Regions from separate parts of the Homo sapiens genome. Here all the other regions are reported to be linked to region 2. The links are microRNA targets in miRTarBase. Many come from high-throughput screens and were not tested one by one. Region 2 holds a microRNA gene; each other region holds the end of a gene's coding sequence.

Region 1 (7,611 bases), not on the chromosome of region 2:
CACTCTTGCACTATTCCTTCTCCAAGCCAGAAACCACATTTAATTTCATAAATAAATTTATGAAAAGTAACCTGGCTGCTAGCCCGTTTTCTGTGGGTGTGCGTGCATTTTCCTGTGGCCAGCAGCCTCTAAAGGTGGGGTGGGGGCTCACCTGTCGCAGATCACACCCTCGGGGATTTAGTGGAGATGATAGGCTGAGGCGGGGCTGGCTGCAGTTGTTCGCCTAAGGCGAGCAGGGCCAGGCCATGCTGGTTGCTGATGGGGAATACAGGTAGCTCTGCCCTCCCTTGCACTCAAGACCCAGAAACCAGTGCTTCCCTGTGTTTGTTTGACTGGAGCTGGCCCACGTGAGTTTGGTGGGTGAGTAGTCAGTAATCTTTCTGGGCCTCAGCATCCCTGGTGAAATGAGGAAGAACGTGTCTTCCCAGGGTCTTCTGACCCTGGCCACAGAAGCCAGAAGGGGAGCATGGTGCTGCTTCCCTCCCTGTCCCACTTGGGAAAATGGTCCCCTGCAACCTGCTGCCTCCACCACACTCCAGCACTGCCAAGGTCACTGGGGCTGGACGCCATGGTGGTCTTCTTCTCAAAACCCCTGGCAATCTCCCAACTTGAGAGAAGCCCCAGCACCTCCCAGTCAGGCCATGCTACCTCTAGACAAAAACCCATATGGAGAAATCATGAAAACCACAATATGCAACACAAGTCAATCTTTATTGAAAACTGCAGTATTAATACATAACAATTCTTGTTACAATAAACGTGCTTTTGAGATTTTTAAATCTGAGCTCATCTCATCAGATTGCATAAAAAATTAAAATAGTATCAATTGACACCTAACTGAACTGGCTCAGGATGGAAATTCCATTCCTTGGCATGGATACGTAAGTTCAATGCAGAGGTGAGGGATGCCTTTAACACTGGAAGACAATGCTGACTTAGCTTAAAAAAAGTACCGAGAGAACGGTGTAAAAAACGGTATTTAAAAATCATTTTTAAAAAAACAAAAAGGAACCGTTTCTTCTTTAGTTACAATCCATGAGGCTCTCTAGGGCCTCTCCGTGTGGCCAGCACAGCAACCCTGCTAGGAGCACAAACGGCTGGCCTGAGATCTGGCCCAGCTGCCTTGCCCACTGGTCTGCACAGGGACTCATGGGCACAGCCTGTGGTGAGGAGGAGACACCTGTCATGCCAGTCCTGGGAGCACACCACCCTTCTGCAGGCCCGGGGGGGGGTCCCTACACAGACGCCGCTCATCCTCTGTCTCCCCTTCCCAAGTGACTTCACTTCAGTCCTGTGGACCAAGATAAGGCTATCCCCACAGGCTCTCTCTTCTTCAAATAATGAGTAGGAAAAAGAGACAAACTTTCTGAAACATGCAGTTTCCGACCCAAATAGGCCACATACCCCAACTTCTGTGTTACTTGGTCAGTTGAGCCCCTGGAGCCCTCAGGACCTACTGATAAAGCATGTCCTCTGCAGTATACTCAAGAGTCTGCTGCCCTTCAGAAAGCCAGAGGGAACACTCACAAATGCAGAGGTACTAGAGGGGAGAAATACGTGCTCTGCCTTCCCCCAGGCCAACCACACTCTGCTTTAGAGACCCTCTCAGAAAGCACCAGAGAGGAGGACCAGACGCTGCCACCCACCTCAAGCCACACCCCTGCCACCTGCTGCTGCGCCCAATGGAGGTCCTGTCCTGTCCGGGCAACAGCCAAACTGGCGACAATGGACACATCCAACAGTCAGCTGTCGGATAAGGTGAAGGTGGCCCAACTGCTCAGAGTAACACTGTTCTCAAATGTTTAAAAAGGACAGGTGAAGTCTGGGTCTCCTTTTTTAAAGCAGACACCAATACTTACATAACTAGTACATGTTGGCCTTTCACCAGCACTCACTGGCACTCACAGGTGCCTTACATACCTTACGGGGGCCAACACTGACAGGTATTAGTACGTCGCAAGTTGCTGTAATAATGTATTTCCTCTCGTTACTGTTGTGTCCCCCAAGACACATGCAAATTATTTCCTAGACCTCATTCATCACAGCCAGATGATGCCACCAGAAAGAGCAAGGTACTGTATGCCCAGCTGGGGAAGGGCAAGACACTCACTGACCAGGTGCCCACCCCAAGGCTCAGGACCACCCCCATTGCCTGTGAACACATTTGCATAGCACTCAAGAAGGTTTCCCAGAATAGCGACAGGTAGGCCTACAAACCACACCAAGAAGAACGTTCTTAACAGATGGCTCACGAGAGACATAAAAGGTTCTGGAAGTGCCTTCAGGCCCATTACCATGACTGGCCCTGACTCTGGCCCTCACAGAGCGGCAAGTTCATGGGTCACTGGCTCACACTAAATGCTCAGCCGCCAGCACAGATCCAAACAAGACCTCCATGAGCAGAGAAACTGCAGCGGCTGAACACACTCCCCAAGCCTCAGGGGAGAAGGTGTAGAACAAATATTTTTTAAATAGCCATCATGATGTCCATGTTTACATGAACTAGGTCCTTTGCTTACCTGCTGTCTCAACTTCTAAAAGAATAGTAATTCAGCTGAAGGACTCCCAAATTAGGAATGTCAAACACACAAAAAGCAAATTTCTCAGAATGCTCCACCATATGCTTCGGGACAAATTATGAAGCTTTGTAACAGAATTTTGACCCAAGTTCTATTTCTTAATTGACTTTAATTTTACTAGAAGCGAATGTTGATAAAATTACAACCTATGACAGTTTTGTGACTATTTCCTAAGTCCAGATTCTTACCTGATATCTACCTTTCGTATCTGACAGCTGACGTCCTAAAAATTTCAAAGTCAGAAAGATTTCTGCACGGATGTGCAATGCAAACTTATTTCATAAAGCCTCTCAACTTCATAAAAGGGAAAAAAGGTTAAGTTACAGGGAGGAAGAAAAGTGTTTATGAAGCTGATGTAAATGGCGTGTGGGGGGTGCAGCCCACTCTTTAAAACACCATCCTGTGTGTGCCAAGTACCAAGCAAGCCTGAAGAGATGCCTGTAACTTCTAACCTCCTCCTGAACCCCAAGACTCCAGCCCTCACAGGAGTTGTACATGTATGTTTCCATTTTGTTGTGTGGGGCTTTTTAAAAGCATACACTAACATTGTGAGTATTTTATCCTAATCTATTAGCACTCAATTGGGAAAAAAGACTTCTCTGCTACTTGGTCAGCTGAACCCCTGGAACCGTTAGAACCTACTAATCCTGCCAACCATCCACTAAACAGATGGAATTACCAACAGAGACTTGAAGAAAGGGGCACAAACTGTGTGCCTGCGGTAAATGTCTGCCCCCACACATAGACACTAAGATGGATTAAGTGCTCATGAAGCAATTTAAAGTACTTATCAGTAAACATTCTATGTTAATAGACATCAGGAATAAAGAATCTGCTGTTTACAATGATCCATGCAAAAATATTCCTAAACTTCTTATAAAATAAGATGTGAAAAAGAAAATTATAAGAAGTACTTACTATAAAAAATAAGGTTACCAAAGGCTCAGTGGTCAGGTGTCCCCCCACCAACCAACTGGGGCAGAATGCTAGTGGGCATCCTCACTGGGCGCCAGTGCCCTGACCCAGCTACCAGCAAATGAAGAGGAGCAGAGCCCCCTCCCCACCAGAGCCCACAGCACTCAAACCACCACTGCACTGGGAAGAAGACGCACGCTCCTGCCCTAGAGGCCGCTGAAAGGGACCCAGGCCTTACATCCCCCACCCCCACTCTGACCCTCACTGAGAACCGACATGCACTCTCATGGATACAGGACGGGCATATTTTGGGGGCGGGGTGGAGGGAAGCCTTTTCATTTCTTATGTACAAGATTCAGATCCTAAACTCAAATTCCTCTCCCACAATAAACCCTGCCAGCAAACGCACTCCAGCACTGCCTGGCCCTCTCTGCTGTCTGTGCTTGCTTTGTGCCAAGTGCCCTCAGCTGCAAAAGAGATGGCAGGAGAGGCTCGCAGACAACAGACACTGGCCTCCCCCTCGCCCCATCTCTAAGCGTCCCCTCCAGCCGGCCTCAGCAGACAAGTCACCACCATCAGGTGGGTGATCCCAGAAGCAGCTACAGGTTTCTACATTTCCAGACATATCCACGGCCCTGCCTTTCTACAAGAAATTGGAGGAATTTTAAATAAAGTTTTGTTCCCTTTTAACTCATTCTTAAATATACCACTTTCTTCATAACATACAGCTGAAACCTTTGCCCTTCTTTGTTGGGGAAAAACAGCAATGCCTACCTGTTTTCAGCTGATTCAAACATTTCTCCAGGAAAAAAAAAAAAAAAGGAATGATTTTCTAAGCTAAATAAAGCAGAGGACAATACCTCCTGCAAGCATGGCTGTTTCTCTTTCACATTTCTTCCATCCCAGGAAAATAATTTAGTTTTACATAGGACTTTTCCAATAAAGACATATAAAAACATCATCTCTCTAAGAGAACTGTAATGAAAATTTAGATAGCAGAGAAACTGCTTTGCTGACACATAAACCACCCCCCTCGCCCCAAATTTCACTGGCCACACTACCATAATCTTTCATGATGAGCTTTAAGCATGTCCCTGTTCCACTGACTCCACCAAGCCTAAACTCAAAGGGATGTCCATGAACCAGCTGCACCCAAGCAGCTGTGGCTTCCCTACTCTCTCCCAAACCTCGCAACTCCCTCCCAGGACAGTCAGTGCCAAAGAAACAGGTCGCTGAAAACTAAAATGTCCACATCCCTAACTGGCAACCCACATCAACCCCAAAAGGTTGAAGAATCATCTAAGATATTTCAGATGCTCTATGAAGAAATTCACTTTAACACTTATAACTGTAAGACTTTGCATACATTACAACAGTGCATTAGTGATACAAGTTGTAAAATACGTTTCCATTCCTTTGGATTTTGCATATGATGGTTTTGCATCAGTCACTGCAGGTAGATTGAGCAAGCTTTTTGTGTTTGTTTTTTTAAACATGCATTCAACTAGATATGATTCAGAATAGATTAATACTCCCTTTTTATCATTACAGTTAGCTAAAAAATTGCCAGGCAGTCCACAAAACAGAATTTGCTTTAAGACCAACCCACAGAGTCAGCTGGAGACTAACGGCGCTGGGGCCTGCTGGGCCGGGATATAGTCGTGTTTAGCTAAGTGTCGAGAGCATTAAGAAGAAAGTCCTGGTTGGAGGCGCAAGGCCTGCAGCACCAGCTGTGGAATCCCCAATAATGTGACTGCACAGCTCCGTCCTCAAACCTGCAGAAAGGAAGACAGACACTCAGTCACACAGAGCTCTTCCGGCACCGCTATTCCAAAATCTCAAGTAGGATGAGGCCCAGCAGGGTCGGAAAGGGCAGCAATGGGCAAAACTGCTGGACCTGGTTCTCACTTCCTTCCTAGAGACCCCCAATTGCAACTGGAGCCCTATTTCCTGTAGCAGGCAGGTGGGGGGTTAGAGCACATTCCAGGCAAGGCTCAAGATGGACAGTGTCAACAGTAGGTATTCAATGGTTCCTTCCTTCCTTCTACTCTGTAATGTCTCAATAAAAACAAAAAATTTAAACACTACATTGCCTCTGGATCCAGGGTCAGGCACACTTTCCTCGTTAGTGCTTAAATATGTGGTAAATTTGCCACTGTCCCATGGAAATGCCCTTTCATCAAAGGCTAGCCCAGCCTTCCCTGGTCACTTACATTTGCAGGTGATCACCACTGAGGGGGCACATAGCTGTAAGTGGGCGTTCCTGGGGCCCGGTACGTGGGCACAGTGACCGGGTGGGGGGCGACAGGAGTTGGGGAGTGAGCAGTCAGCAGGGTACCTGGAAGAAAGAGCAGCACATGACATGAGGCTGACCTCCTGCACAGCTCCACACTGCCTGATACGCACACAAGCCTGGCCTCTTTGCAAGGAGGAGGGTATACAGGAAGAGGGATAGTCTTGACCCAGATACTGTCAGAACTCTGATTAGATAATCCCCCACACCCAAAAGTTGTCTCCACACAGCAAGCTCCACAGACAATATGTTCGTAAAAGCCTTTTGTGTGTCCCCTTCATAAAGCACACCCAATAATTTTTATAGGTCAGATGATAAACAAATGAGTATGCTTCAGCCTTAACAAGGAAGGAGATTCTGACACATGCTACAATATAGATGAACCTTAAGAACATAATTCTGAAAGAAAGAAGCCAGTCACTAAAAGACAAATACTTAATGATTCCACTTAGATGAAGTACCTGGAGTAGTCAAATTCAGAGACAGAAAGAAAGTAGAACAGGGAATTAGCGTTAATGAGTACAGGAGTTCAGATTTGCAGGATAAAGACGTTCTGGAGCTCTGTTTCACAACAATGTGAATATACTTAACACTACTGAACCGTACTTAAAAAGGGTTAAGATGGGCTGGGCACAGGGGCTCATGTCTGTAATCCCAACACTCTGGGAGGCTGGGGTGGGAGGATAGCTTAAGTTCAGGAGCTTGAGATGCGCCTGGGCAACATAGTGAGATCCCAGCTCTACAAAAAGTTTTAAAATTAGCCAGGTGTGGTAGCATACTTATAGTCCCAGCTACTCAGGAAGCTAAGGTGGGAGGATGGCTTGAGCCCATGAGTTCCAGACTACAGTGAACTGTGATCGCACCACTGCACTCAAGCCTGGGCAAAAGGGCAAGACCCTGTCTCAACAAAAAAAAGTTAAGATGGTAAAAACAAATAAATAAAAAACAAGAGGCTGGCAACAGTGACTCACGCCTGTAAGCCCAGCACTCTGGGAGGCCGAGGCAGGTGGATCACCTGAGGTCAGGAGTTCGAGACCAGCCTGGCCAACATGGTGAAATCCCATCTCTACCAAAAGGTACAAAAAAATATTAGGCAGGCATGGTGGCAGGCGCCTGTAGTCCCAGCTACTGGGAAGGATGAGGTGGGAAAATCACTTGAACCTAGGAGGCAGAGGTTGCAGTAAGCTGAGATCACACCACTGCACTCCATCTTGGCTGACAGGATGAGACCCTGTCTTAAAAAAAAATATTAAAAATTTTAAAATTAAAAAAAAAAAAAAGAAATGAGGATTCTAAACTACATGAGCTTCTGAGTTCTTTAAGAGAAATCTATTTTTCCTACAACTGCAGAAACTCAACAACTACTTGAGTCCCTTTATGGACCAGCACCACCTCCAACACAGTGGCACCCAACCTGGTGCCTGCTGCCCTCCCTCCCTGTGCCTCAAACCAGCAGTTTCTGTCTATGCCCAGTTTCCTGTTCCTTGACAGATAAGTATGGGGAAAACCAAATCAGAGTCTACATTGAAGCACACATAATAACCCGGAATGCTTTTCTCTCTGGCATAATTTCCTTACACTGAAGTCAAGTCCAGAAAAACAAGGAGGGAACAGTACGCTTTTGTGTGGGCATGACCTAAAGGTGGTCATATTGACCCAGAGACCAGGAGGTGAATCCACATGGGTGGTCATACAGATTGGGTGGTCACCCAATCCCTAGACATCAGATCAAACCCCCAGGGCTTCCGCGGAGATGTGCCCATCCCAGCCAGGGGCCTCATCTTTCCATGGTTTATTTTCCTTAGAGGAGGCCTTGCAAAGTAA
Region 2 (8,399 bases):
ATTAAACATAGTAATGACAACAAAAATACCAAAAAGACTGGGAAACTATAAGAGCTAAGACCAACATTCTAAATATCTAGAGAAAGGAAGATTTTTGTATTAGTAAAAATAACTTTTTAAAAAAGAGTAAAAGAAAAACATATATAACATAAAACAACAGTAAATACAACATATCAGTTAGATTAAACATACTAGTTATGTCAAGATAAGTAAATAGGCTTAACCTTCCTATTAGAAAAAGTTTCAAATTGCCTATGTGAAAAATATAATTAAAATAACTATAAGCATAGCGATCTGACTATATACCTTCACTGGGCTATACGCTATAAATAAAAAACTGCATAGAAATCTTAAACTTTATTGAGATTATTATTAGTAGTGGTATTGCTATAGTAATTCCAATGTTATATCATGTATAAGACAGAGCAAATGAATAAACATATATTGATGTTATTGGTAAACTGGATCTTCATTATGGAAGAGGAATATGAAACAAGGAAAGAAAAGAACCTTGGTGTCACTAGGAATTCAAATATCACTAGTTTTTAAAAGTATATTTTCTTATTCTGTCTAATGAAAAGAACCAATAGAAGCAATGACACCCAGTAATGCATCCATGATGTTGGCTTCCAAATACCATTCCCCACTAAGAGAAACAAGAACTTTTGGTAAAATAGCCAAGTCCAGGTCTGGGGTAAGAAAACCATAAGGTAAGGAGAGAATGTTTTGTTGTGCCACAAAGCAAACTGGTGCTATAAAAATGAGGGGGCATGTCAAAGAAACAGAAACCAGACTGATTGAGTTCTCGCTGGCTAAATTTTAACAATTTGAGTCACCAAAGGATACACAGTCATGCGTCACATAACCACAGGGATATCTTCTGAGAAATGTGTTTGTTAGGCTATTCCCTCACTGTGCTAACATCACAGAGTGTATTTACACAAGCCTACACGGTATAGCCCATTGCTCCTAGGCTACAAACCTGTATACCATATTACTGTACTGAATACTGCCTGGTAACTGTAACATGGTGCGTCTGAGAATATCTAGACATAGAAAAGGTACAGTAAAAATACAGTATAAAAGATTTTTTAAAATCATATGCCTATATAGGGCACTTACTATGAATGGAGCTTACAGGACTGGAAGCTGCTCTGGGTGAGTTAATGATTGAGTGAAGAGTGAATGTGAAGGCCTAGGTCGTTACTGCACACGGCTGTAGGCTTTGTAAATATACACTCAAACCACACTACATCTATTTTTAAACATTTTCTTTCTTCAATAATAAACCTTAGCTCATATAAACTTTTTAGTTTTTAAACTTTTCTGACTTTTGTAATAACATTTAGCGTAAAACTAACATATTGTACAGCTGCACAAAAATATTTTCTTTCCTTTTATCTTTATTTTACAAGCCTTTTCTATTTTAAAAAATTCCTGTTTTACTTTTAAAACTGTTTTGCTAAAACCTAAGACACAAACAAACACATTAGACTAGCCCTACACAGGGTCAGGATCATCAGTATCACTGTCTTCCACCTCCACATACTGTCTCACTGGAAGGTCTTCAGGGACAATAACATGCACAGAGCTGTCATCTCCTATAATAACAATGTCTCTGGAGTACGTCCTGAAGGAACTGCCTGAGGCTGTTTTGCAGTTAACTTTTTTTTTTAATAAGTAGAAGTACATTCAAAATAACAACAAAAAGTATAGCATAGTAAATACATAAACCGTTAACATAGCTGTTTATTATTATTATCAAGTATTATGTACTGTACACAATTATATGTGCTATACTTTTAGACTGGCAGCACAGTAGATTTGACTTACACTAACATCACTACAAACATGTAATATGTTGGTTGTGACGTTAGTCCTAACATGTTATAACAGCTACAACGTCACTATGCGATAGAAATTTTTCAGCTCCATTATAATCTCATGGGATCAATGTCGTATATGCAGTGCATGACTACATAACAATAATGGATTTTAGTTCACCGAATTAATGAAGAAACCATGAGCCCTTAGTGAAAGGACAGAAACTCCTTTACAGAAAGAAGAATGCCAGCTAATAAATGTGGAAAGAATAATAGATGTAGAAAATCATTTTGCAAGCATCAATGTAACCAATAATTCAGGCATAAATCAATAATGGATGTTAAAAACACTGGGTGAAAGGCTGTTGAGAAACAATGTTTACTCAGTCTCAAGGCATTACCCCACAGATTAATGATTAATTATCAAGGGGAAAAGGATACTTTTACAATAGAGAAATCAGGTCACACCACCTTAACCAAGTAATCAAACTAAACATCATAAATAATGGACCAAACTAATAATTCAGAGGATAAAATAAACAAACTTTAAGTACATACAAATATCAACATGAATAAATCTTGATGTAAATAAACACTGAGTGAAAAAAGCAAGTTAAAAAGTTATGCCAACAGTATATTATTATTCACATTTTAAAAGGAAATCAGTACTGTTTATCTTTTTATACAAATATGTGGTAAAAAGTATTGAAAACTTACAGGATACCTTTAGAAAAGTAATTACCTCTGAGAAGAGAGGCAAAAGAATGAGATTAGTAATCTTCAATTATATTTTTAATTTATTTTAAAAAGTTCTGAAACAGTGATAGCAAAAAGTTAACATTTGTTAAATTTTGGCAGTACAGATACATAAGCATCTTATATTCTTCCTTGTATTTTTTATATTTTGAAGTATCATTTAAAATTGTTAAATTTAAAATGGACTGCTGCTACATAATTTTCAGTTTTAATAGCTATACAATACTTAGTTCTGTAATTCTTGCTGTTTAAAACAACCGTTTTGAAGAACTTTGATTTAGAAGGTCACCAGTGGTTCCTATTTTAATCTTTAATGTAAATTAACAGAAGCAAATTGGCACTTCCAAAATGATTCTAATAAGCAAAATGCATTCCATTTAAACAAATAAAAAATAATGTTAAAAGTATGCCATCCAAGTGGCATTACATCTCCAGTTTAATACTTCCTGTATCTCATATTGCTTTTAAAACTGAACATTCTTTGGAGAATTGAAAGTTTGACTATTTTAATAATTTGCTTTTGTCAATCACTTTGACTAACTCTACAAAATCATCCTATTAAAGTTATTATTTTAAATATCAATTAATAGGTCTATAAAAAACCTACTGTTATAAGACTGGTGCATAAAAAAATATAAATTTTTCAAGTGATTTAGCAGTAATTTAGTTCTTCATCATGTTCCTTAAAAGGCTTTAATCTATAATCTATTTGTAAAAACTTTCTATTTTCTCCTTAAGAGAAGGTCAACGGCTTTCACTTCACTTGTCTAACATAATCATGAATTGAAATAAGAACTCTCAGCTCTTTGGAACGACAATGCTACCAGTATGCCTAGGCCAATAAAGCGATTCGTTCATTAATGCTGCTAATAAAGCAACCTTTTGTTAGTCTATGAAACATCAGAAACCTTACAGACTCTAACTTTGCAATTTTTCCCTGTTTTGCCACATGAACTTAAAAGTTCTCTTACATGCCATTTACTTTAATAACTAAAACACTATCATTCAAAAATTCAATCTTCCACTCTAGGTAAGTTAATAACTTAAAAAATATTCGCTCCAACTGCAGAAATTTCTAGATGAAATTATGTTTTAATTAATTATTCTCTTGTGTTTTCCCATAAAAACCAATCTGTATAGAAGTCTGTGCTATCTTCTATTAAACAACTAAAGGAACTACCCATATAATATTCTCAAAAAGAAAAGCATAAATGTTCATTTATTCAATTAGCACCAATCAACTACAGTAAGCAAGGCAAAGAAAATACAGCAAAGATTAATACACAATTCCTGCCCTCAAGCAACTCAATTTAGGGAGTAAGCCAGGTATCTGTAAAAATTACTGTAAGGTAGTTTATAATATTAACTACTAAATATAATAGTATAAAGAATATAATTAACAGAGCTTAGACAGGATTTTTTAAAACCTTCCATGAGACTTTTGAGGCTAAATAGAGAATAGTCTATTTTAGGTAAATAAACAGCACGTATAGAAACACAGATGCATCAAACACCAAGGTAAATTCAGAAATTCTTAATTCTGTAAGGCTCAAGGGTATCATGTATGTAAGGAATTATTAGGAAATGTCTGTCAGTTCACAAAGGGCCATGTTTGTGTTGCCCTCGAATTTGAACTTTATTCTAGGCAATTGGCAGTAATTAAAAGGCTATAAGAAGTAGTGTATGGTGCTCAGTTCTGTTTTTTAGAAAAGTCACTCCTGAACTACCTGAATTCCCAAAAGCTCTTATTTTCAATAACTTCAGAATACATAAAGCTTTTGGTAATTCAGGTACCTCAAGAGGACATAAATGGTAGGCTTCCAAGCCTACCAAGACATTCATACTCAGTATAACTATATACCTACTCTATACTGCTAACTTAAGTTTAGCATTTTCTAAACTAACTGTCACTTAAAGAGAAAAATCAATACATGAAATATTGGTTCTAATATTAGTCAACTATTTTTAAACCTCTTCAAAGTATTGGGAAAATATCAGTTTCCAGGAATTATAAAGTCATGTTATTGATACATTTTAAGAGTTGCAGTTAAAGTCAACAGGATGTGTTTAGAATTTATAAAATTAATCTTAAAATTTAGCCCACTGTAATCCTTACTGTGAACATCCCTGGAACTGAAACCTGGCACCCTTATCTTCTTCTGAGCACTGTCTTTTATGCTTACTACCCTCCCCTCAATACCACCCCCATGCCTACCTTGAAAACTCCATGTTCTTACATGACCCTGGGCTACAGTGAATTAGTCCAACTTGACCCAGCCATACCAATGTTTTCAGTTGTTACCTATTATGACTAAATCCATAAGCATTCTTTAAAAAAAGCCTTGCAAACATGTTTTCATTTCTATTAGGGAAGTACTTTCTTCAACCACAAAAAATGGAACTAGAAGTCGCTACAACATGAATTAACTTTGAAAATATTATGCCAAATGAAATGAGAGGACAATAAGACAAACACTGTATGATTCTATTTATGAGGTACCTAGAATAGTCATAATCATAAAGACAGAGTATAACATACGTTACCAGGAAATCAGGGGAGGAAAGATGGGAGTTATTGTTTAATGGGTATCAAGTTTTTATTTGCGATGATGAAAAACTTCTGGAAATGGACAGAGATGGATGGTTGCAAAATATTGTGAATGTACTTGATGCCACTGAATTGTATATTTAAAAATGGTTGAAATGTAAATTTTATACTATGTATATTTTGCCACCAATAAAGAAAAAAACCTTAGAGGAAAAATTTGTTACTTATTGGACTCCCTAGAACCCAAGAAAGTAAAAAAGATCTAACATTTAATAAGTACCAGGCATTACATATACTACCTCAAATAGCCCTCCCAACAACACTATAAGGTACACTTAGTATCTCTGTTTTAATGAGGAAGAAACAGGCAAAAAGCAGATAACTCAAAAGTCACAGAGCTAGGAAATATTGGGCATAGGACTCAAACCCTGGCAGTCTGACTCTGTCTCTCAAGCAGCAGCATAAGTTAAAAAAACATTCATTACAGAAATCTATGTTGTTAAAATTGCCTAAATACTCCATGGAAATATGAACTGGCAAAAATCAAAACATAATCCTGCACCTACAATACCAATAGTGTGTATCTGCATTAAGGACAACATGTTTAATGGTATAATTATAAGCAAAGCAGATTTTTTCTATCTTTATTACTTATGAGCTCACACCTTCATTTGGCAGTAAGATATATCAAAATTTAAAACATACAGCAAGCAGTACAAAAAATAACAAAACAACAAGCTCTTAAAGATCGCTGTCCCTGATAAATACCAAAACTAATAGTCAAAGGAAGAAGCACATTAGAGAAGAGAGAAAAAAGAGGTGATTTAGAATATTCTTTGTAAAGAGGAAAGGGGTCTTTCACTCACACGGCTTAATACATTAATAAGGAAGAAGCATAATAAAGCTCAAGGGCATTTGAGAACCAACTGACAGGACTTTCCGGATATAGTTCCAGATCTAATAACACAGTTTTATTGCCCCTTGTTTTTATCAGATGCCAATAAAATCAGAAAGAAACCATTATCATTTCTCAGTCATTCTCTCACATTCATACATTTTATAACATACTGACCTTACAACATAAGCAGTAATAGAATAGCTCTTCAATTTGGGTATCCTTCAATTTTTTTAAAAAACTACACCAACATAATCATTCAATAAATGTATTATTATTCTAGACATTAAAACAGCAAGAATAGATATATCTTTCCCTCCAAAAACTTAGGCTTAGTCTAGTGTAGAGGTTGATAATAGTTAAGCAAATAAATCATAATTAAGATAAAAGCTATGAAAGGACTTAACAGGGGCACTTAAAACTAGTGAGTGTTCTGAATCAGAAAAGGCTTTCCCCCATGGACGTGACGTTTAGAATGATATTTGGAAGATGTCTTAAAAAGTCAAGAGGAATTCAGGATAGTGGCTGGTGGGGAGAAAGGAGTGCTGAATCAGGGTACGATTCACAGAGAAGAAAATTACATTAGTAAGCATTCTTTATTAAGCTGGCAGTCAGACCACAGGTGCTGTTTAAGTGTCTTCGTAACTTTGATTTAAAAAGATCTTTATATGGAAAACTTTGAACACACAAAAAACAAACAAAATAGTATACTAAACTTCCCCACATCCATTACTCAACTTCAGCAACCACCAACGTTCTGCAATTCTTCTTTCATCTACACCTCCCACTCCCTGTCACCTAACTCAATTATTTCTATAATTTTTAGATAAAACTTGTTTATTTTATCTAAGATACATGTATGCCATTGAAATACATACTTCTTAGCTGTACAACTTTAATAGATAAGCCCATGTAACACACACCTCTATGAGATATGGAACATTTTCATCACTTCAAGAAGGCCCCTTATGCACCCTCCCAGTTGAATATCACCATTTTCCAGAAGCAAAAGGCAACCTTTGTTCTGTTTTTATTTTTTCACTCCAGAGTAGCTTTGCCTCTTCTAGAACTTAATATAAATGGAATAATACAGTATCATGTCCAGCTTCCTTTGCCAAGTATGTCAGATTCATCCATGTCATGTTGTGTACATTTGCCATTCTGTAGTTCTTTTATTACTGAGTGGCATTCCATTGTATGAATATACCAAAAAATTTTTAGTCATTAATCCTATTGACATTTGGGCTGCTTCTAGTTGTCAGCTGTAAGGAGTAAATCGACTGTAAATATAATTTTTAAAAGTTTTTTGTGGACATGTTTTCATTCCTTTTCCGAAAACACCTAGAAGTAGAATTGCTGGATCCAAAGGTGTATGCTTAAATTTATAAGAAATTGCCAGTGGTATTCCAAAGTGGCTCTCCCATTTTATACTCACACCAGCAATTTACGAGTGTTCTGGATGGCTTCCTAGAATATTTGTAGTTGACAGTCTTTTTAATTTTACCCCTTCTAGTTGGTTTTAGTGATTATTTTATGGTTTAAGTCTGCATTTCCCTAATAACTAATGTTTTTATCTTTTGTATGTATTGAAAACTGGGTAATGTTGTAAATGAAAAATGAGGAGCATATTAACATAGGAAATAAGAGCAAAGACTCTGGAGGAAAAGGTATATTACGCCTGGACCAAGAGGCCGTGCTTTGCTATAGTGCAGCTATGGCAAAGAGTAACAAAGAATAGTAAGGCTAAGGAGGTAGATTAGGGTCAAATCACATGGATGGGGATTATTATGAGTTCAGATTTGAACTCGTTTTTTTAAGGTACCTCTAGGATAAGCTAAATGGCATTATTAAATAGGTCTGAAACTCAGGCAAATTAAGTGCTGGAACAACAGGTATGCAGTTCCTTCATAAATGGAAATCAAAGTGGTAAGACTGCCTGGGGAGAAATAACAGAAGTAAGAGAAGCAGAAAATACCAAAGGACCAAGACTCAAGAAATTTCTACTTTTAATAACCAAGCAGAAGAGAAGCCTGTTAAAAAAAGGCTGAAGAGCAATAGATCAGAGAGGCAAAATGAAAACCAAAGAGTTTAAAGGATAGTTTTTTTGTTTTTTGTTTTTTTTTCCAGAGACAGACTCTCGCTTTGTTGCCCAGGCTGGAGTGCAGTGGCGCAATCTTGGCTCACTGCAAACTCTGCCTCCCAGGTTCAAGCGATTCTCGTGCCTCAGCCTCCCGAGTAGCTGCGATTACAGACATGTGCCACCAAACCTGGCTTATTTTTGTATCTTTAGCAGAGACAGGGTTTCACCATGTTGGTCAGGCTGGTCTCGAACTCCTGACCTCAGGTGATCCACCCGCCTCGGCCTCCCAAAGTGTTG
Region 3 (7,611 bases), not on the chromosome of region 2:
TTCTGAATTGTGCAGCTCCTCAAATATTAATCCCATATGCAGGGGGCCTGGGCCTACATTAGTCCTCCTCCAGGCTCCAGTACCCAGTCCTATTGGCACTGCCTTCCCAGGCCCATCTCAGGCACCAGAGGAGGACTTGAAAGTTTCAAGGAAGGCAGGCCAAAGTACAGGTACTGGGCAGGAAAAGAAGCCCTACTTGCCCAGGTTACTTTTTTAAATTTCTGAAGCTGAGCAGGCTATAAAAGTAACTTGAACCAGAGGCATTAAAAGCTGTTTTACTCAAAGTTGAAGAGCTCAGAGTTTTTCCCAAACAGAAAGAGAATTTCTGAAAGAGGGAAGATTAACTTAGATGTGGAGCTAGTGATTTATGTCAAAGATTTGAATTTTAAAAAGAAGTACCTGTATTAGGCAGTTCAAGCTTCTGTAACGAAGTCCCATAGACAGGGTGGCTTGTAAACAAGAGAAATGTATTTCTCACAGTTTTGGAAGCTGGAAGTCCAAGATCACAGGGCTAGCATAGCTGACTTCTGGTGATAGCCCTCTTCTGGGTTGCAGACTGCTGACATTTCCTTGTTTCATTGCAGGAAGAAGAAAGAGCTCTCTAGGGTTGCTTTTGTTTGTTTGTTTGTTTGTTGTTGTTGTTGTTTTTTATAAGAGCACTAATCCTATTCATGAAGCCTCCACCATCAAAACCTAGTTACCTCCCAAACGCCCCACATCCTAAAACCATCACATTGGGGGTTAGAATTTTAACATATGAATTCAGGGAGGACATAAACATTCAGTCCCTAACAGTATCCAATCTATGTAAATATAATGAGTCCAATATAAGGCAATGGGATTGTATACATGTTACTTTTTAATGTAATTTTCATTGAATTTAAAAACTTTGTGTGTCACTGTGAAATGCTACCAATTTTTGTCATGATATAATGTCTCAACGATAGTTTTGCAAAACACATAAATTGGTTACACCATGCTCAACTTTGCTTGAAACTTTTTTTCACTTTATTTTGAGGAATTTCATAATTTTACTGGCCTTCAATAACATTGTATATGTGTGTGTGCATATATGTGTGTGTTGGAAGGCACAACTTGAATTACTGTGGATATTTTACTTTCTGTGGTACTGTAAAGCTTGTTGCTTTGCCAGAAAATGCGTAACTGGTTATTCCTCTAAGGATCCAAGTCACATCTCAATGGTGTTTCTCCATGCTTTTTGCTCGTTTTGTTTCAATGCTAATACTGTAAAAAAATTTTCAAAATATGTTAAATGTCAATTAAATTCAACACCTATAGTACCAGAAATTGATAACTGGTAAAAACTCCACCAATGTGAAAGTAATTTGAATACCTATAACTAACTTCATATGTGTACATTATGAAGGAAAATTTATCTTAAATCTGAAAAATGGTAAATTAATGATTGCTTGATTTTTATTACCATACTAAAACATTTTCCAATAATCCTGCCAGCAATAGATGCCTTTGAGGTTTTGCTAGGGCCAAAAGTTCCCTTTGATCCCAGACTCACCTCATTTTGGCACCTTCCCAACTCAACTACCTGCCATGTGCATGTCTTCTTTCTGCCTTAGGGTCTTCCATTCACACTTGGTCTGCTCACTAGTACCGGGAAGTGAAATCCCCTGCCCCGCCTGCAGCCTGAAACCTTCAGCTAATGGGGAATAATTTTGGGCTACTGTCCTTCAGTGAAAAGTTCTGTTAGGCATTCTGTGTGCTCCTGGGAAGAGCCGGTAGAGTACCTGGTAGAGGCACCTTCACCTACTTTGAAGGATCTATATTGAATTTTATTCCCCTCACACTCCCACTTCCTGGGATTCTATCCCAAATAAACTGTTTGCATCCAAGTCTTTGTCGCAGGCTCTGCTTCTGGGGAAACATGAACAAGAGTAAGTCACTGTCGAACCTTTATCTGATTCTCCTGAGTGAATGTAAATTACCAAGGTATATTTTCGACAGATAATTTCCAAATGATAAAGGTGGCCGACTTCAGACTTCCTGTAGTCTTGAAGGTTAATGGTTATTTAACCTAAAGAAAAAGATAGATGTCATGACTCTCTAGCCCAGTAAAAATTAGTATCATGTTTGTATTGCCCTGTAGAAAGTTTACTAACTCGGCTGGGTGCGGTGGCTCACGCTTGTAATCATCTCAGCACTTTGGGAGGCTGATGTGGGTGGATTGCCTGAGGTCAGGAGTTCAAGACTAGCCAGGCCAACATGGTGAAACCCCGTATCTACTAAAAATACAAAAATTAGCCGGGCATGGTGGCGGGCACCTATAATCCCAGCGGCTCAGAAGGCTGAGACAGGGAGAATTGCTTGAACCCGGGAGGTGGGGGGTTGCAGTGAACCAAGATCATGCCATTGCACTCCAGCCTGGGTGACAGAGTGAGACTGTCTTAAAGAAAAAAAAAAAAGAAAAAGAAAAAAAAGAAAGTTTACTAACTCAGCCATCATAGTTAAGTTTCTTTCACAGCTGCCATTTGACTGCTCTTTGTCTTTCTGCTGTTTACTGTATTAACGAGGTAAACAAAAGTTTGATGCATGCTCTGTTTCTTTGAGGCTTATGTTTTTAAACAGCGAGCAATGAAAAGGTGAAAGTGATTGTGAGACACTAATGCCTATAAGATTCATTTCAGTTTCAGCTGTACTACGATGAAACTTATCTTTGAGTTGTTAGGGTGGTAGCTACCAAACTATTTTTAACATAAATAGGATTGCCTCCAAAATGCAAATTATTAGGCTCTTTTCTTCAAAACTGCAGAAGTTGCTCTCACCCCTTCCCTCAACCAACACACAGTCCAAATGCAGCAAGCAGTTTAGGGGCCATTGTAGTATCTTGTGAGACCCCAAGGAAGTCTCAAGTCCTTAGAGCCCCAGCATGGCACAGAAGAGCATATGGAACTCTCCTTCCTTACTCTTTACACCCACCCTACATTGAAGGACTTAGAAGTATCAGGAGAGGATCAATGGATAATAAGAGGCATTAAGGTTGGGAGAAGAGGATACAGAGTAAAGTTCTGACAAAAATGAAGATCATTTAATGAAACTTGGCCAACAGCAATCCCCAAAGCCGCCTGCTTCCTGACCACCCACACATTCTACACATGGGGACAGCTCTGAAATTCAGATGTCACTGTGTGCAAAGAAGAAATCCAGACTATATATGAAATAATCAAAAAAGCCAGGTATCGTCGATTTCACCTGGAATTAAGATTATATCTTCTGCCACTAGGCAGAATAGCAGCCCAAAATAAACAACGAGTTTAATTGTTGAGAACTCCTGTCTGTACCCACGAATTGTGAAATGTGTGCTGCAGACACCATAACACCACCCGCTGTGTGGCCCTCGAATTCAAGAGCAACAAAACAAACAAAAACACCAATTATTTATTCCACAATTAGGAATTTCACAGTGAATTTTACTCACCGGAAATGAAACCACCCTCATCCTGGTACCACACTTATTCTTTGACTTTCGTGCAAATACTCAGAAACAAACTAGGTATGAAAAGCAGGGATTGCATGTGTAATGAATTTCAGTCCATAAATATAACAATATCTTGTATCATTGATGGAGTTTACAGAGTCCATATCATACACATTAACTCACTGAATCATGACAACGGCTCCATGAGGTAGGTATTATTGAATTTACAGGTGAAGTACCTGAGACTTAGAGGTTAAGTAACATCTCCGAGGAAACACAGCTGTGACAAAACTGCGACTCAAACCCAGGTCCTCTGATATACAGAATCGGTATGTATTATCACATATTATAAATAAAGAGAGAGACTAACTTATATTTATAGTCAACTCACCAGGGGTAAGAGAGAAATTACGTCACTACACATGTCCCTCTAATTTTTCCTTAAAGTAGCTTTTAGAAATTGACTTCTTGACCTGTGGACCTGTTCATCTTTAAGTAGATGCTGGTGATTACTTCATTTTTATAAAATTAAATTTCAGATTAAACCCCTTTTTTTCACTGTTTTCCCTCATATTTTCAAATTCTGATAAACACAAAATTTAGGTAGAAGAGCAATATATATGTGAAAGGGAAAAAACCTACATCAGATTCTGTTGCTCTTGGAACTTCCAAGACATGGTGCCCATATTGTTCATCTAAAGTTGAATACCTGGATACACTAACTAACTTTAATAATGTATAACCTGGTATATGATAGGTATTGTTAAAATTTTACGTGAATTCGTAACAAGAAAGCAGATAGTTACTGATAAGCATTTCAGAGTTATATAATTAATTTTCTTGCTGACAGAACATAGGTGGCTCAAACTTTACAAATCACATTTATCTAGTTGAATCCCAATTATTTTAGAAATAGATGAAATAGATTAACTGAAACTCAGATACACATACATAAACAAAAATAATATACCCTTAATATTAAAGAAGACTTAGTCTCTGATCCAATTATTCACTTCTAGGTCTTGACTGATCTTACATTTTTAATTTCAGAGGACTTAGGTAAAATTTTGCTTACAGTAAAGCCTGGTTATTCATACAACTAATTGAGAATTTTCACTCATCTGATAATACAGGGGTGAAATGTTAAGACAGAACGACTTTGTGATTAAATGGAATAAATTTGATCAGCACACAATGAAAAAAGAAATCAACACAAGAAAGAAAGATGTATTTGAGAACATTTTTAATAAATAATGTGACAAAATTACTTTTCTGATTATTGGATTTTCAGTATGCAAAATTATGGCTAAAAATAAGGGGCTTCTTACATGAACATAATGAAAACATTAATCACATGGATTGTTCCCTTAGTACTGCACGCCTTTTCTATGGAACTTTTTCAAATTATCTAAATGAACAAGTTTGGTTTTGGTGAACACCAGCCTTTTTTTTTGTGGTTCAGTTTTGTTTGGCTTTGTTTTCCACTGGGGTCAGACCTGATACTTATCTATCTATGAATAAATGTACATTTTTTTCTTCAAATAGCACCAATTATAAAATCAATGATATTCATAAAATGACAAAAAAGGATCATAGAAATCTACTAGTCAGAGGGCATCATTTGTCAATTGAAAGCAAGTAATGCCTCTATTAGAGATTTTAAGGAAATCTTGTAGGTTTCGACATTGGCCACAACAAACTTAAACCTCTTTTTTTCTTTAAGTCCAGGAAAAGTAAGAACCATTTGGTTCATGGCCCACAATAAAGTATGCATGTTACTTCACCATCTGTCATTATTCAAATATTCCAAATACAAACATAGAGCATTAACAAAACAGGTTAAAAACGCTTCTCAACATTTTTTTTTTCAATAAGACAAAAAAGGTTAATAGTTACAATGGTTTACAAATAAAGTTTAGTGATTGTGCTTTTAAAACCAAAAAAAAAAAAAAAAAGAGAGAGAGATTAAAAACAGTGCATTACAAAAACAAAAATCAAACTTCCTTAAGTGGCACTTCTGAAAGTTGAACTGACACTACCAGAAGAAATTTAGGCCAGTTAAGACAGGGATGTTCTTACTCAATTGGTCATTAAAAACATCCACTTGTTTGTAATACGTATTTATAATTACTTTTTGATGATTGAAAAATAGAACAAGGTTTTACTAGGTTTACTTATGACAATGACTAGACAACCAGAGATCCAACTGGCTTAGCCCTACTTATCCAAAAGTACATTTCCAATAAGAATATACTTCAATGATTGAAATGAAGCCAAAATAAAATACCACCAGGGTTTGCAAAGAGTAAATATTTACAATGTTTCTACCCCATTCGAATTGTTTGTGGTTCTGCATTTGCTATATTTTTAGTTTCTTCCAGCAAAGGGTAGTATGAAAAACTGATTTTGAAATCATGTTAAAATGAAATATGTTTTAATTTGCATTAGCAGTTGGCTATAGAAAGATTATACTTTGAGAGCCCTTGTGAGGTTGAATATCAACTTTCTATATTTGATCAATATCTTGCTATAAATTAGCTTGGCATATAAGCAGTGCAATGCCATATCTCAGCGGCAAAATGCAAAAGAACAGTTTTGTTCCCTCTTGCTGGCTGATGACTGAAGCAAGAAGTCAAAGCACTTTGCTTGCTGGAAGTAAGGTATAATGGTTTGCTCCAACAGCGAGGGGAATAGGAAGGCTCTTTGTAGGGTTAGGGATCAAACAACAACAATAAAAACCCAATAAAGTTTTTAAAATGATATCCCAATAAGAGGAATAAAAACGACAATTTGTACACTCTGATTGCACTGAACATTTTATCTGGCGTCATGTGTCATCTGACAGGAGGCATCTTGAGTGATGATTTTCACATTAGATCTCATAAGCCTCTTGGTTGTCTTCAGCTTTCAGTTTCCTGTAAGAGATACGTTATTGTCACATTTGAAAATAAATCTTAAGAGGATTGTGTTATATTTATTTATATGCATTTATTATTATTATAATTTAATGTGTCTTTTCATTTATTCAATGGACTATGTTGGAAAGGGCTCATGTCAACTAATTCATTCATCAACCTTAATTGGTCTTCACAGCAAATTCAACAAGTACCAAACTGGGTTCTGCACAGTGCCCCGGTGTTGCGTGGTGGGACACAGGGCTCTGAGAAGCGGGAAGGAATGTGTTGAGTTATCTAATCCCCTCAGCCCCAAGTCAACATTACAACTCTGCTTTTGTTGGTTTTAAATACTGGAGTTAACAGTAAGGCCATTCTGTTCCCCCAAAAGGCTACTTCTATTTTAAAATAAACTAAGACCTGAAAAACAACTTCTCTGTTTGCAGGAGGAAAGTCTTTCTCATTCTAAACCTCAAAATCGAAATACATTGAGCTTTATAGGACTTTCAATTAGACATAATGGCCTATACCTTTTCAGCTTCTACTATAAAAAGTTGTCATTTGACACGTATTTATCTACTTGAGTTTAACTATATTTATTAAAAAATTTTCCTCAACTTTTATTAAATTGAGAAAATACAATCTTTGAATGGGTGAGGGGAGAATTTATGATATGTCAAGGCTAACAAGAGAGTATATCTTTGACGTAAGAAGTTTCCTCCAACTGGGGAGGTCAGTGTCACAGACTAGGCATACACTTTCAGAAGTGTAAAGGTGAAGGACAGTTAGCCAAACCAGCCACATTACCCTGGTGCTGACTATGGCAACTTCCTCACTCACATCATATAACTCTGTCATCTTACTGGGTTTTTATAGCCTGCTACAATGCTATGAATTATAATAGCTCTAGATCAACAGCTCTTACTTCTTAACAATGTGTTTGCCATATATGTTTCTTATCTGAAAATCTGCAAATGAAGATAAACCCTAGCTAAACAAATAAACTGCCATTAACATTTAAAACTTTGGGACACATTTCAAGAAAATTCTCAAATTCTCAGAACTTCAGTTTCTGCCATCATAGACATTAGAGTACTGAAAAGTTTGCAATAAAACAGTAACATTTCTGTACACTGATGAAGGTTCCTAACTACATAAAACAACCACAGTCTAACATTGGTAAACTTGGGGAAAAATTATAGATACCTCTAATTCTTCATTATTATCTTCTCCTCTTTCATATCCTCCAAGTACCTGCATTTCTGC

Evidence for each region. The annotated mature microRNA hsa-miR-3140-3p reads AGCUUUUGGGAAUUCAGGUAGU and lies in region 2 at 4,302-4,323, opposite strand. An mRNA with a match to its seed (bases 2 to 7 or 8) in the 3' UTR can be bound and repressed. Matches are read on the target gene's strand: a 7mer-m8 pairs with bases 2 to 8, a 7mer-A1 pairs with bases 2 to 7 and ends in A, and an 8mer does both.
Region 1: the mRNA of FAM168B is a reported target of hsa-miR-3140-3p. Seed matches in the 3' UTR shown: 8mer at 761-768.
Region 3: the mRNA of ROBO1 is a reported target of hsa-miR-3140-3p. Seed matches in the 3' UTR shown: 7mer-A1 at 5,377-5,383.

Annotation. Positions count from the first base shown.
Region 1 is chr2:131,047,184-131,054,794 of GRCh38, forward strand. FAM168B (family with sequence similarity 168 member B) reads right to left here. Exons shown (of 7, transcript NM_001009993.4): 6 at 5,708-5,832; 7 at 693-5,269. The coding sequence ends at 5,720. It overlaps ARHGEF4 (Rho guanine nucleotide exchange factor 4), which reads left to right. Exons shown (of 14, transcript NM_001367493.1): 14 at 1-70. Among named protein-coding and RNA genes, the nearest start is that of SMIM39, 16 kb to the left of the region's middle.
Region 2 is chr4:152,485,035-152,493,433 of GRCh38, forward strand. It overlaps MIR3140 (microRNA 3140), which reads right to left and starts at 4,382; the gene lies at 4,293-4,382. The region is part of intron 2 of FBXW7 (F-box and WD repeat domain containing 7); the gene reads right to left. RefSeq lists an enhancer at 942-1,211.
Region 3 is chr3:78,592,562-78,600,172 of GRCh38, forward strand. ROBO1 (roundabout guidance receptor 1) reads right to left here. Exons shown (of 31, transcript NM_002941.4): 30 at 7,552-7,611; 31 at 4,678-6,366. The coding sequence ends at 6,352. Among named protein-coding and RNA genes, the nearest start is that of LINC02077, 550 kb to the left of the region's middle.